2 linked regions of the Homo sapiens genome follow. The protein of the gene in region 2 binds, or shares a complex with, the protein of the main gene of each other region. Each region holds a gene or a part of one and is shown on either strand. Other genes may lie near its edges.

Evidence for each region. The genes of interacting proteins can lie anywhere in the genome.
Region 1: CWC27 (region 2) and DHX16 share a complex: the UniProt entries of both Homo sapiens proteins name them as parts of the minor spliceosome.

What each region holds. Positions count from the first base shown.
Region 1 is NC_000006.12:30,655,978-30,663,010, reverse strand, and holds part of DHX16 (pre-mRNA-splicing factor ATP-dependent RNA helicase DHX16), read left to right. Parts: coding exon 1-100; intron 101-268; coding exon 269-384; intron 385-579; exon of another isoform or gene 580-1,154; coding exon of another isoform or gene 1,155-1,255; intron 1,256-2,393; exon of another isoform or gene 2,394-2,441; intron 2,442-2,768; coding exon 2,769-2,979; intron 2,980-3,176; coding exon 3,177-3,275; intron 3,276-3,386; coding exon 3,387-3,539; intron 3,540-5,918; coding exon 5,919-6,059; intron 6,060-6,251; coding exon 6,252-6,414; intron 6,415-6,501; coding exon 6,502-6,620; intron 6,621-6,745; coding exon 6,746-6,813; intron 6,814-7,033. UniProt on the Homo sapiens protein: Required for pre-mRNA splicing as a component of the spliceosome. Contributes to pre-mRNA splicing after spliceosome formation and prior to the first transesterification reaction.
Region 2 is NC_000005.10:65,009,907-65,016,939, reverse strand, and holds part of CWC27 (spliceosome-associated protein CWC27 homolog), read right to left. Parts: intron 1-7,033. UniProt on the Homo sapiens protein: As part of the spliceosome, plays a role in pre-mRNA splicing. Probable inactive PPIase with no peptidyl-prolyl cis-trans isomerase activity. As a component of the minor spliceosome, involved in the splicing of U12-type introns in pre-mRNAs.

The DNA of each region.
Region 1 (7,033 bases), on a different chromosome or scaffold from region 2:
CAAGGGTATGAAGATTGCCTGCACCCAACCCCGGAGAGTGGCTGCCATGAGTGTGGCCGCCCGAGTGGCCCGGGAGATGGGTGTGAAGCTTGGGAATGAGGTGAGATTTCTAGGGAACCGGGGGGTAGAGTCTGGGGTCTGTGACTCAGTCTACAGTTCCCTCAGGTCCCTACAGCAGAAGTCTTGGTGCTGCCCCACTTCACCTTTCCCCAAGTTCCTTTCAGGGCACACCAGCCCACACTTGGTTGCTAATGGTTCCCTTGACCAGGTTGGCTACAGCATCCGCTTTGAGGACTGCACATCAGAGCGAACTGTCCTCCGCTACATGACAGATGGGATGCTTCTCCGGGAGTTCCTCTCTGAGCCTGACCTGGCGAGTTACAGGTATCTCTAATCTCTGGCCTTTCTCTCCCTTCTTCCCACCCAGCCAATTCAGCCATTGTCTTCTGATTAATCCACCCGTTCTTGAATCTTTGTGGTTCAAATGGTCCTTGAACTGACCTCCAGGTACCACGGAGATGGGGCTGGAGGACAGAAGAGATTGTAGAGAAAGCCTCTTCTTTCCCCATTCATCTCCAGGGTTTAGAAAACAACCAGGATAGCAGAGCATTGCTGCCGAGACTTGAAATACCGTGTGAAGACCATTTGAAAACACTTGGAATGCTCAGCTCAGAGGGAGAAACAGGAAGCATCCTGGTTCCCTCTAAATATGTGAAGGCTGTTACATGGAAAGAAGGATCAGATTGTTTTATGTGACCCTACACGACATAGCTAGGAGCCATGGGGAGGTTACAGGGAGACAGATTCCAACTCAATACCAATGGCTGAGTAACCCTCAGAGTGGTGGAGATTGCAGGGCCTGTCAGAGTGGTTGGACTCTGGGTCTTGGCCCTCCACACAAGTCTTGGGTAGCTTGGTCTGTGAATAATGAGCTCTTAGTGCTGGAAATGGCCAAGCAGGGGTTGGTTGAACATGTGTTGAGGGGGAAAAGGGATTCATGAATGTAATGGGGGTGGGGTCAGGCCAGCTGAACAATATGTGCCTTTTTGACTCTTCAGAGGCTGTGAATTTCTGGTCTTGGAAGATCACAGTGGAGCAATTGGACAGATAGGATTTTATCCTTCATATCCCTTGCAAAAGATCTCTAAGAACCCATGGAGAGCCAGCCAGCGCAAGAGTGTCTGATGCAGATGTTTTTGCCCATCGAGCCAGCCTGCTTTGTGGAATGGCTGGGGACTTCACCATCACAGTTAGGGTTAGGCACAAAGAGTTGAGGTCAGGGAGGTGGGTAGGGGAAGATGGGGATGAGTTCCTGGGACTTGGCTGCCACCCAGAAAAGCCAAAGAACAAAGAGAAAGAAGGTGTCATGCACATAACTGAGTTAGGAGGAAACCAAGGAGCATGCAGAGTCCTGTGAGAGTTGAGGTAGAAAGGCTTAACTTGCTCCTGTCTCCAAAAGAAGAAACAGTCAAGAATGATGCCAGCAGCAGTTGTCCCACAGGACACCAGGAGCTTCTAGGCTATTTGAATCACAGCAGCTCAGGTCTATTACCCCCAGTCAGCCTTGCTGGCCCACCCTTATTGAAAGGGACCCTGCCTTCCACTTTTTTTTTCCTTTAAAACGTATCAGCCGGGAGCGGTGGCTCACGCCTGTAATCCCAGCACTTTGGGAGGCAGAGGCAGGCGGATCACGAGGTAAGGAGATCAAGACCATCCTGGCTAACACGGTGAAACCCCGTCTCTACTAAAAAATATAAAAAATTAGCTGGGCGTGGTGGCGGGCACCTGTAGTCCCAGCTACTCAGGAGGCTGAGGCAGGAGAATGGCGTGAACGCAACCCAGGAGGCGGAGCTTGCGGTGAGCCGAGATCGTGCCACTGTACTCCAGCCTGGGCGACAGAGTGAGACTCTGTTTCAAAACTCCGTCTCTACTAAAAATACAAAAAATTAGCCAGGCACAGTGGCAGGCACCTGTAGTCCCAGCTACTTGGGAGGCTGAGGCAGGAGAATGGTGTGAACCCAGGAGGCGGAGCTTGCAGTGAGCTGAGATCATGCCACTACACTCCAGCCTGCAACAGAGCAAGACTGTCTCAAAAAAAAAATCCTTCCACTTTTTCTTTTTTCTTTTTTTAGATGGAGTCTCGCTCTGTCACCCAGGCTGGAGTGCAGTGGCACGATCTTGGCTCACTGCAACCTCTGCCTCCCAGGTTCAAGCGATTCTCCTGCCTCAGCCTCCCAAGTAGCTGGGACTACAGGCGTCTACCACCACATCTGGCTAATTTTTTTTGTATTTTTAGAAGAGACGGGGTTTCACTGTATTGGCCAGACTGGTCTCGAACTCCTGACCTTGTGATCCACCTGCCTCGGCCTCCCAAGGTGCTGGGATTACAGGCGTGAGCTACCACCATGCCCAGCCTAAAACATATCCTTCAACTTTTTCTAGTAAGAGCAGCTGCTGAGTCTAAGCAGACTCTTGACTGAACTAGAGGGTATGGCTAACTTGTCCTGGCCTCAGTGTGCAGCCTCTACATCTTGTCTCCTATTATCTGCTGAGGCTGGGATAGGTTGCAGATCATGGGGCCCTGGCCTTCTCTGACTTTCTGTTGCTCTACATAAGTGGGATGGCTGACTTCTCCTTAGAGCCCCCTCCGTCAACAGTCATTCTTGAACTCTTTGTGTCCATTACTCCCCTCTCATCCAGTTAACTCTGGTGTCTGATACTGCATTGCCTAGCGCTCTTCCCTCATTGCTCTCCTATTCCCTCCCCAGCGTGGTGATGGTGGATGAGGCACACGAAAGGACCCTACACACAGACATTCTCTTTGGATTGATCAAGGATGTTGCTCGCTTCCGACCTGAGCTCAAGGTCCTGGTGGCTTCAGCCACAATGGACACTGCCCGTTTTTCCACCTTCTTTGATGACGCCCCTGTGTTTCGAATCCCCGGACGCAGGTTTCCTGTGGACATCTTCTACACCAAGGTGCCCCCTCAGGGAGGATGGGCTTAAGTCTGTGGCAGAAAAGCTGAGGCCTTTGGAGAAGGTTATCCTGTGGAGGGAAAGATGGAATGGAAGGTTCAAAGGGGAACTAGGATAAAGTGTATGTTGAATTGGGAGGAGAGGAAAGGTTTGCCTAAGCAGGTGGCCCTCCTGTGACCCCATCTCTTTCTGCTCTCCAGGCTCCAGAGGCTGACTACTTGGAAGCTTGTGTAGTATCTGTGTTGCAGATCCATGTGACCCAGCCCCCTGGGGATATCCTGGTGTTCCTGACAGGACAGGTGCCTGACATGGTGGGGAGAGGGGATGATGTATCCCAGGGGAAGACAGGGCCGGCATGTTGGCCTTCTGTGACTCTGGGACCCCTGCTGCTCTCCCTACCCTCTATCCAGGAGGAGATTGAGGCTGCCTGTGAGATGCTCCAGGATCGCTGCCGCCGCCTGGGCTCCAAAATCCGGGAGCTCCTGGTGCTGCCCATTTATGCCAATCTGCCCTCTGACATGCAGGCCCGTATCTTCCAGCCCACACCACCTGGGGCACGAAAGGTCAGTTGGAGAAACCCACACTCTTCACCCCTATGCTTCCCACAACTAGTAGTGAAAAAGCTGTGTGCCTGCCCCATGCAAGGTGAGTCCTGCGCACTGCTGCACACAGCTGAGGAGCAGCCAGTCCCTTGTTCCTGGGACTGAAGAGAGGAGAAATATGGTGTGAACCAAGAGAGAGCCAAATATGTGATCTGGAAAGTATGCACAGTAGATTCAGTGGAGAAGGGAAGTCCTTGATGTGCTAAGAGGTGGGATTTGATATGGACCTTTAAGAGAAATGTCTGAGGTCAGGTGCGGTGGCTCACGCCTGTAATCCCAGGACTTTCGGAGGCTGAGGTGGGCGGATCACTTGAGGTCAGTAGTTCGAAACCAGGCTGCCTAACGTGGTGAAACCCTGCCTCCACTGAAAATACAAAAATCAGCAGGGCATGGTGGCGTGCGCCTATAATCCCACCTGTTTAGGAGGCTGAGTCATGAGAATCGCTTGAACCCAGGAGGAGGAGGTTGCAGTGAGCTGAGATTGTGCCACTGCACTCCAGCCTGGGTGACAATGCGAGACTCCATCTCAAAAAAGAAAAATGGCTGAGAAGTCATCAGAGGAAGGCCCAAGGTATGTTTGAGGTCAGAGTGTGAGCTAGTAGGCTTAGTGGGAGGTTCATGTGGTGAAGGAGTAGGAGACAAGGCTAAAAACAATTTGGGGCTAAGATTAGGGAGGGCCTTTGATGACAGGAAAGTTTGGACTTTATTTATTTTTCTTTTTTGAGACAGAGTCTCGCTCTGTTGCCCAGGCTGGAGTGCAGTGGCAAGATCTCGGCTCACTGCAGCCTCCACCTCCCAGGCTCAAGTGATTCTTGTGCCTCAGCTTCCCAAGTAGCTGGGATTACAGGTGTGTACCACCACCCCAAGCTAATTTTTTTTTTTTTTTTTTTGAGATGGAGTCTCACTCTGTCGCCCAGGCTGGAGTGCAGTGGCACCAACTCTGCTCACTGCAACCTCTGCCTCACAGGTTCAAGCGATTCTCCTGTCTCAGCCCCCCAGTAGCTGGGATTACAGGTGCCCTCCACCACGCCTGGCCAATTTTTTGTATTTTTAGTAGAGATGAGGTTTCGCTATTTTGGCCAGGTTGGTCTCAAACTCCTGACCTCAGGTGATCTGCCCACCTTGGCCTCCCAAAGTGCTGGGATTATAGGCGTGAGCCACCATGCCTGGCCAACACCCAGCTAATTTTTAGTAGAGATGGGGTTTCGCCATGTTGGCCAGGCTGGTCTTGAACTCCTGGACTCAAGTGATCCGCCTGCCTTGGCCTCTCAAAGTGCTGGGTTACAGGCATGAGCCACTGTGCTTGGCGAAGTTTGGACTTTAGACAGCTGAGTAGCAGTCAAAGGATTTTGAGCAGAGATATAACTTTCATTCAACAAATATTTAATGAGTTCCTTCTGTGTGTCAGGTACACAGGGGTTGATGATACAGTGATGAACAAAACAAAGTCCTTAGCCTAACAAACTTGCACTTGTGGTCTATCGGGGAAGCAGTGGATGCATAAATACATATTGTCAATTTGTGGCCAGTGCTATGAAGAGATACAAGGCAGCATAGTAGGATGGAACTTGACTCTGTGGGGTGGGAGTGAGGACTGGCATGAAGGTATTTTCCTTGGGGTGTAGGGAGGGCCTCTTCAGTAAGGGGAAAGTGGAATAGAGACCCAAACCAGGTGAGGGAGGGAGCCAGGCTGATATCTGGGAGAAGAGTATGCCAGACAGAGGGAATAGCTGATGCAAATGATCCAGTGAGGAGTGCACTTACTTGGGCAGAGCAAAGCAGTGTGTGGGAGGAGTGAGGGAGGTGGTGGAGTGCTAGCAGATGAGGTCAGAAAGGCAGCTGGGGTAGGTGATCCAGGCTTTTAAGGGGCTTGGATTGAATTCTAGAGTAGGATAGGAAGCCACTGAAGGATGGGGAGTGATGTGACAGGTTTGTATTTTAAAAGGACCATCCTGGATGCCATGTGACAGAGGCTAGGAGCAGAAGCAGGGATACACGTTAGGAGGCTCTTACAGGAAGTGTTGTGTGAAGACGAAAGCGGTGATGGGGAGGATCGGGCAGGAACTTGAACACCCCCATTTCCCATCTCTGAAAAAAAAAAAAAACCCTAAATCCTCTTCTCCATTTCCTTTCCTCCTATGGCCCTGCTGACTCCCAGCCCCCACTTCCCTGTCCCCTGTCTTCTGGCCTTGTCCCCTGCTCCTGACCTTGGATACTACTAATTCCCTCAGCTCCTGCCCCTTACTGCAACTGCTTCACTACTCCTAACTTTCCAAGATTACTTTTTCTGGGTAACTAGGTAGGTGGGGTCACTGGGTGACCCCATATCCTATCACTCAGGTGGTTGTGGCAACGAACATTGCTGAGACATCACTCACCATTGAGGGCATCATTTATGTGCTGGATCCAGGGTTCTGTAAGCAGAAGAGCTACAACCCCCGCACAGGCATGGAATCGCTCACTGTCACACCCTGCAGCAAGGTCAGCCTGGGGATGCATGGGAGTGGGGGAGGTGGAGTTGGCCCACAGAGAAGGTCCAACTCAGAAGCAGGGTGGGGGCTTCCTAGGGAACCGGGATGAGCAGTTTGCATCCTTCCAGATTTCTTGCATAAATACTGCCTTTTTCTTTTCCCTGACCAAATTGTCAGCCAGCCTGTTCCCCTTTCTTTCCAGGCCTCAGCCAATCAGCGAGCTGGCAGGGCAGGTCGGGTGGCTGCAGGGAAGTGCTTCCGCCTGTATACCGCCTGGGCCTATCAGCACGAGCTTGAGGAAACCACAGTGCCTGAGATCCAGAGGACCAGCTTGGGCAATGTCGTGTTGCTGCTCAAGAGCTTAGGTGATTGGGCTACCTGAGAGAGGAGGGAGGGGCTGGAGTCACTGTCCTTTGAAGGGACTCTGTTCCATCCATCACACCTCTTTCTAGGGATCCATGACCTAATGCACTTTGATTTCCTGGACCCTCCACCATATGAGACACTGCTGCTGGCTTTGGAGCAGCTGTATGCTCTGGGAGCCCTCAACCACCTTGGGGAGCTCACCACGGTGAGTCGGGGGACAGCATGGGTGGAGGCAGGATGATAGGGGTCAGGATGGCTCCAGGGACCCCTGTAGTAGTAGCGGGAAACCTGAGGGAGGACTGGGCTCAACTCTCTCTCTCTTCTCCTTAGTCTGGTCGAAAGATGGCAGAGCTGCCGGTGGACCCCATGCTGTCCAAAATGATCTTAGCCTCTGAGAAGTAAGCCCTCGCCTCCACCTGGGCCCCCAGCACACAAACAGGCCAGGCCTCCTCTGTCTCCAGGGTCCCCTTTGTCTGTCTTTTTCTGTTCATCATACTATCCCTTAACACATAATAAAGTATTAGATAACTCTGATTGCCCCCTTTTGAGGCCCACAAGGGTAAGACACTTGATCCTATCCTTGATTCCACTGCGCCCGGCCCCTTGAGGAACTTACTT
Region 2 (7,033 bases):
GGATTAATACTTCTTATATGCCTGTTGTAACTTTCAGATGAAACCCAAATATGATGCTAATATCTTTTCCCCCATATAAGCAGAGATCTGGGTAGTAGGTAGGCAGTAGTGAAGATCCCTCACTCTTTTCTCTCTACAGCAGCACAAATGATGAGTGAAATTTACTTGTGTGGCAAACTCACATGGGTATACCTAGATTTTGAAGAATCCTAAAAAGATTTTAGGAGGGAAATAAAATGTCACAATTTTAGTGATACCATCATTACTAAGGGTTCAGTAGCTGCTGCTCACCAGGGCTGGCGAGTTGAGACTTATGTACCGTTTCTACCTTCTTTTGTCCCACCTGAGAAAGCTTACTGGAAAGCAATAAGTAGAAATGATATATATGGATGATCTAGAATCTACTTTAATTTACTGAATAAGTCACATTCACATTTTTATACTTCATTATTATTATTATTATTATTTTTGAGATGAGATCTTGCTATGTTGCCCCAGATGGTCTCGAACTCCTGGGATCAAGTGAACACCTTGCCTCAGCCTCCCAAGGAGCTGAGATTACAAGCGCATGCCACCATGCTTAGAACTATATTATTAATGATACATAATTTGTATCAAATTTCATAACTGATCTTAATACCTGAATATGCTATTTCACATGTGGAGTTGCTGACTTTTTACACTTCCATTCCTTTAGTAGACACCCTTAATTAGAAAATGTATTGTACAATAGTTGCAAAATCTAATTTTCTTGTGCGTTCAATTTCCTACAGCGTTTAGGTATTAGCTTCTGAAAGTAAGACAATCTCTAACTCCCAGAAAAAGGCTGACTGTTCGACAGCCATGGTATTAAGTAAACCACTAGAACCAGTTGGAAGAATAATTAAACCAGATTTATGCAGTTAATGATATCTCACCAAGGTCTAAATAATCAGTGACAACTCACTTCAGTAAATACACCTCTGAAAGCCAATTAACCAGTGATAGCCACATGCTTTTGAAAGTTGGCCTGTCGGCTGCAGACTGGCTCCAGTGAATATGCTTCTGAAAGCCAGCCAGTCAACAATAGTTTCTTTCAAATAATGGGGCTTCTGAGGGTGATAGCTGCCCCTAAACAATTCCTGACCCCAAAACACTATGTAAGATTTGCAGCCTGCTTTGCTTGGAGACACTGTGCCTAAAAGCACAGCTCCTCTTTACTTAAGTAATAAATTAAGCCTTTTTTTCTCCAGTCATTGAGAGGTAGCCTTTTTCTTCAACACTTCTTACAATCTTTGCTGCATCCCCCACAAAATGCACCCTTTAAAATTGTAATATTACCACTGATGAGAAGTAAGTGCAGAAGAATGGTAGGACTGTCCTGTTAAAGGTACTTTACCACACATCGGGGGCATCTAGACCCCTCTACTGCACTTCAGTACATGCTTAGCAGCAGCGTTCCAAGTGCTTACGGGCTGGCTGTGTTGATGTCTAAGCCAACACCAGTGTAGCTGGAATCATACGCCCTTTAAAACACTTTCATCAATACTCCTGGATTGATATGAGAAAACAAACTTACTGTCTTATTAATACCTCTTCATATACATATTCTTCTATTTAAAAAATTATCCTTTTCTCTGCCCAGAAATACAGATGGTTTTCTGTAATATCCATTTCTAGTAGGGATTCTCCATGTTTCAAAAATGACTTGATCAGAATTTGTCAATTAAGAATATAAAAAGGCACCTTTTTCCTTTCTATGCCATGAGAGAATCTTGCAACTATTGGATTTAGTCGGCTCTGGTATAAAAAATGAACTCTAGACACATGAATAACAGCATAAAGTCCACAAGAAGAAACAGATTTCCTTACAAATTTGAAAAAAAGCAGAGAGCCGTGAGTTAAAGGAGCTGTCTTTTTCAACTGTTTGTTTCATACACCACTGCACTAAGCAAGTCCAACATTTTGATTAATAACAAACCTAAACCCAGAGGAAAGAAAGGGCTATCAGCTTACAAACTACTTCAGCTTTAATATCATAATACTTAGCATGGCTAGTTACTTGGCAATAATATTTAACCTTTAATAGAAATACAAGCATAATCAAAATGCTTCATCCATTTATCTTTCAACATGCTTTGGTCACTTCATTGTGAAAAGCAAAACAAAACAGTTATTATGATTTTCAGCATAATAAATTCCTGACCTACTTGCCTCTATAAATCACAGACTGTACGAATTGAAAGCATGCCCGCACTTTACAGTCTCCTATGAGGATACACAATAAGATTTAGAATACGGACTCAATTTGAGTACAGGGGGTCTGATAGTTTACAATCATGTATGTCCCAATAACTCAATACTATCCACTCTGCGGCTCTTTATGGAATTGGCCCAAAAAAAGTAGTGAATTTTTTTGGAATTAATTACACACTGATCATTTACATATGAAAATTGTAGAGCTTGTTCACTTGAAGGCAAAGACAAAAATTTAGGTTTGATTAATAAAAAATTTCACATAGGCTCAGATTCTCAAATAACATTGACTTTATAGTGTGTTACAATATTATATATAGTGTATATATAAAATCTATGGTTATATATAATATATAGCTATATATTATACATATGGTATATAGTATATATAGTATATATACAGTATATACACTATATATAACTGATCTCTATGGTATATATTATATATATCATATATAATATGTAATCTATTATATATTGTAGTATATAGTATATATTATATATATAGTATGTTAAAATATGGAAGTTTACTATTTTCAGAGAGGTTGTGTTTGACAGGAAAGTGGTTTTTTTGTTATTGTTTTTGGTGTTTTTTTGGTATGGGGCTGTGTAAAATTACAAACAGAAGTAAACAACTGATTTTTCAAAAAGGACTAGACCTTGACTGACTTCACTAACTTCTTATCCAGTTTTTAAAGTTCTCCCACAATTGTGAAATAGACTAAGATACAATAGCTATTTGTATCAATGGGAAATATCAAGAGAGGAACTGATTCTCAGACACACAATAAGTAGTCTAATATAGAATTCCAACATTAGCAATTCATTTCCGATTTAAATGAATTTAAATTACTTATATAATATAAACAGCTATCTTTTTCATTGGGAAGTCTACAAACCTCTTCTTCCCACATCCAAGCCACCCTAACTTAGGAACTTATCACCCAACCCTACGATTGTTGCAGGTGTCCTAATTGTTGTACATCTGTACTATTTCCTTCCCAGATCCAAAGCTTAAAAAATAATATTTCTTCCACATTTCTTTTATAGCATTCTTTTGATCAGAAACTACTGGTTATCATATTAGACTGAAATAAATACCTCAGTCTACCCTTAAAAGTCCTCCAACAACTGGTGCTTCCTATCTCACCAACCTTATTTCATTTCTTTCATCAATTCTCCCCATTTTGTAATTGCCTGTTTACTTGATTGTGAACAGACTCAGTTGTTTGAGACAGTTTGAGTCTTGTTCACTGTTGCATTCCCGGTGCCAAACATGGTGATTTGTGTTGGGAATAAGGCCTTCAGACCCTTTGTACTGGTCAGGCCTGTTGGCTGGTACTAGAAGGCTTGCTAAGCTAAGAGTCAACTTCCTTTTGTGGGTAGAGACTGTCTTATATTTTGATGATAAACTCCCTAAAACATCTACCAGATTCTGCAGAAAGTCTCAGGCTCAGCATAAGTCTCTTTTCATTTCTCACAGCTCACCAAATACTGATAGTTGCTTTTCCACTCACTCATACTAGTGATTGCTAGTTTTTATTTCCTCAAAAGACTGCAGTGGGAACATGCCTTATGTTCTTATCCATCTCATATAGCACCTGATGTAGAACTAGAGAGAAGGGCCCCTTTTTTTATTTTTTATTTGTTTAAAGCAATGTTTCTCAAAGCATATTTCTAGAGCCCCTGCATCCGATGCAGGTTGCATGTTAAAATCACCAAGTAGCTTTAAAAACTATCAGTGCCAGGCTTCCAACTCCAAAGGTATTGATTTAATTGTTCTGGGATGGGGTCCCAGCATCAGTAACTTAAAAAAAATGTTCCTAGTTATTTTTAAATGCAGTCAAAGTAAAGGGCACAGAAATAAAGCTTAAGAGCTTTTATGCTTTCAGATTGATTGATTTCATTAGCCCTTTGTCCTTGCCCCTTCAGAGATGGAGAACAGCTGGTTCCTAATGACAAACTACTCAAAGAAACTCAAGTAGCCTCTGAGTCTATTATTTGAACTGAATAATCTCAAGTGCATTATTTATTTCTGATATATGTGATTTGAGGAAAAGGCAATGAGCTAGACTCAATTATTCATTCAAAAAACATCTGGGGGCTTTTAATGCATGCTGCCAACGCTGGACACTGGTAAAACAAAGCCAAATATGACCCAGGCCCTACTTCCATGAAGTAAACAATCTGTAAGAACATACAGACAGACACCACGATGTGGTAAACGCAGAGTTTGGAATTGCCTGCAAACTGTGAGACAACAAAAATAGCACTCGCTGATGCAGCACTCTACAAAAAGCTTTCCCATGTTGTCTGGTAGCATCTTTACAATAACTGAATGTGGTGGGGGGCAGGAAAAATATTATTATCACCCCTGTTTCATAGGCAGTCTCTGAGACTGAGGGTCGAGAAACTTGTAGCTGATAACTTCTTGACCAGATACTTTCTTCTATGTCTTCAGAGGTAACAAAACTTTCATCCTGTAAAGATGGATTTAACTTTGGGAATACATCAAAAGTCAATTCAGTGCTAGGTCTAGTAAGGAAGATAAGAAATCAGATAGAGTAGTGCTTATTTTGGAGTACAAAATTTAAAAAATGCAACCATAAAAAGACATGAATCCAGGTTGGACATTAAAGAAATTTCAAAAGAGAAATTCCAGAAATGTCTTGAGCAATGTGGGAGCATCTTTGGGAAAAGGCACAACTCTTTTAGGTGAATGCTTACTTACAAAAAAGAAAAAGCATTAATTCCCCCTATAAATTTTTATCTCCTTATTGCCTTTAATCAGTGCTATCTGAAATCTCAGTTCCAGTTTCTTCTAGTTCTTCCTAAAATAGGGATGCTAAGCAGGGACACCTCATTCAGCTGGAAGTCCAAAAGGAGCAGAACCAAGGGCCCACAGCCTGCCTCTGCAAGGGTGGATATCTGGCAATCTCCTCTCAGCCATCGAATTACTAAGGACTACCTTGTGGTCCATAATACTCAGGTCTTTTATATTTTTCAAAAATGCAAATGTAGCCATGAAAACTCTTCTGTTTTAAATGCTTTGGTGGCTCTCCATTGTCTACACAAGGAAACCCAAAATTCCCAATGTGGCTTCTATAATCTGGCTTTTGCTTCCCTCTCCAGCCTGTTACATCTCCTTCTCCCATCACATCTATGCTCCAGACATCCCAGTTCTTTGAAGTTTCCTGAACAAACGCCTGCACTCTCCTTCTTCCTCGCTGCCTCTATATACACTATACACTTCTGTCTCTCAGTTAGCTGAGTGTTATCTCCATCTTAGAAATGGTTCCTGATTCCTTTCCTGATCTGACCTGCTGTTTCTCCCCCAGGGTTAAGACCCTCTTCTGGTCTTGCAGAGAATCTTGAATATCTCTCTGGTTTAGTCTTCCTCATACTACAGTGTAACTGCTGTCTCCCTTACTAGGCTGCAGGTGCTCTTGAAGGTGGCGGCTCTGCTTTTTTGTTGAGATGGGGTTTTGCTATGTTGCCCAGGCTGGAATGCAGTGGCTATTCAAGTAATCATAGCACACTATAGCCCTGAACTGCTGGGCTCAAGTGATCCTCCTGCCTCTGCCTCCCAAGCAGCTGGGACTATAGACATGTGCCACCACACCTGGCTCTATGGTGGCTCTGTTATTCGCCTTTGTACCAATTGGCCTTTGTACTAGCCAGCAATGCTTGCCAAGAAGAATGCCCTCAATAAATGTGTGCTGAATAAATAAATGTTTCTGAGTAGCCAGCCACCTCCAAAACCTTTGACTAGAGTTCTGGTTTTGTTCACCTTGCTCCTTGATAGTATTAATACATAATTCCAAATCATTGAGCAATTATGTTTATAAACTCTTACATGATAATGCCAGAGAAAAGGGTAATAAGTTACTCGAACAGCTGAAACAAGGTATTTCTACTACTACTAACTTTATGATATGAAAATCCAACACTTATCTTTCTCAAATGGACCAGTTAAACTGCTTGAAGATTGACATCTGTCTAGTGTATGATTAGCCTTTGAGGTGGGAGAAAGTACATATATTGTCCTCGGACAGCCTTCCCCATGTGGGTTAAAAGACCTTGCCATTCTTTATGAAATTTTGCCATACACAAAATTTGTCTCTGTACTGTGTTAGTGTACTGTGTTGACAGCTTCTAATTTCTCTGTTAAGTTAGAATTCTAAGAAACCTAACAAAATAGCTCCTAGTTATTACTAAGATTGTCATTCTATGGGACTGTGGATTACAAACTTTAATGAATCTGATTTAAGTTTTTTAGGGGTAGGGTTGAAAGGAGACTTGTATTTAAAAAGCAAAACCAGCCTTTTTATTTTTAAAGAAAAATCTCAGCAAGACCAAACAATTTTCAAGTTTTGCCCACATCTGATCCTTTGAAAGGACCTGCTCTGTATCATAGGTGGGCTGCAGCATACTTTTGTCCACATCACTTCTCTGGGACGCCCTTCCGCCTCCTTCCCACTGGTGTATGTCCCTGTTTTTTTCAAAGCCCAGTTTAATTCCCATTTCCTCCTAAAATTCTTTTCTGACTGCCCTGGGCCTCAGGATTTGTTCCTGCCTTTGAATTTCTTTAACACCTTCTATGAAACCTCTGTGGTATGCACTCAGAAGCCCTGAGTTTGATTTGAGTTACATTCAGTCACTATTACTGGAGAAAGTCACATTGCTTCTCAGGCCTCTGTTTCCTCACCTGTGGAGAGGGGTGGTAATGTGCAACCTATTTACCTCACGTGGCCTGAGGATCAAACATCATGGATTTGAAAGGGCTCTGCAAATGGCA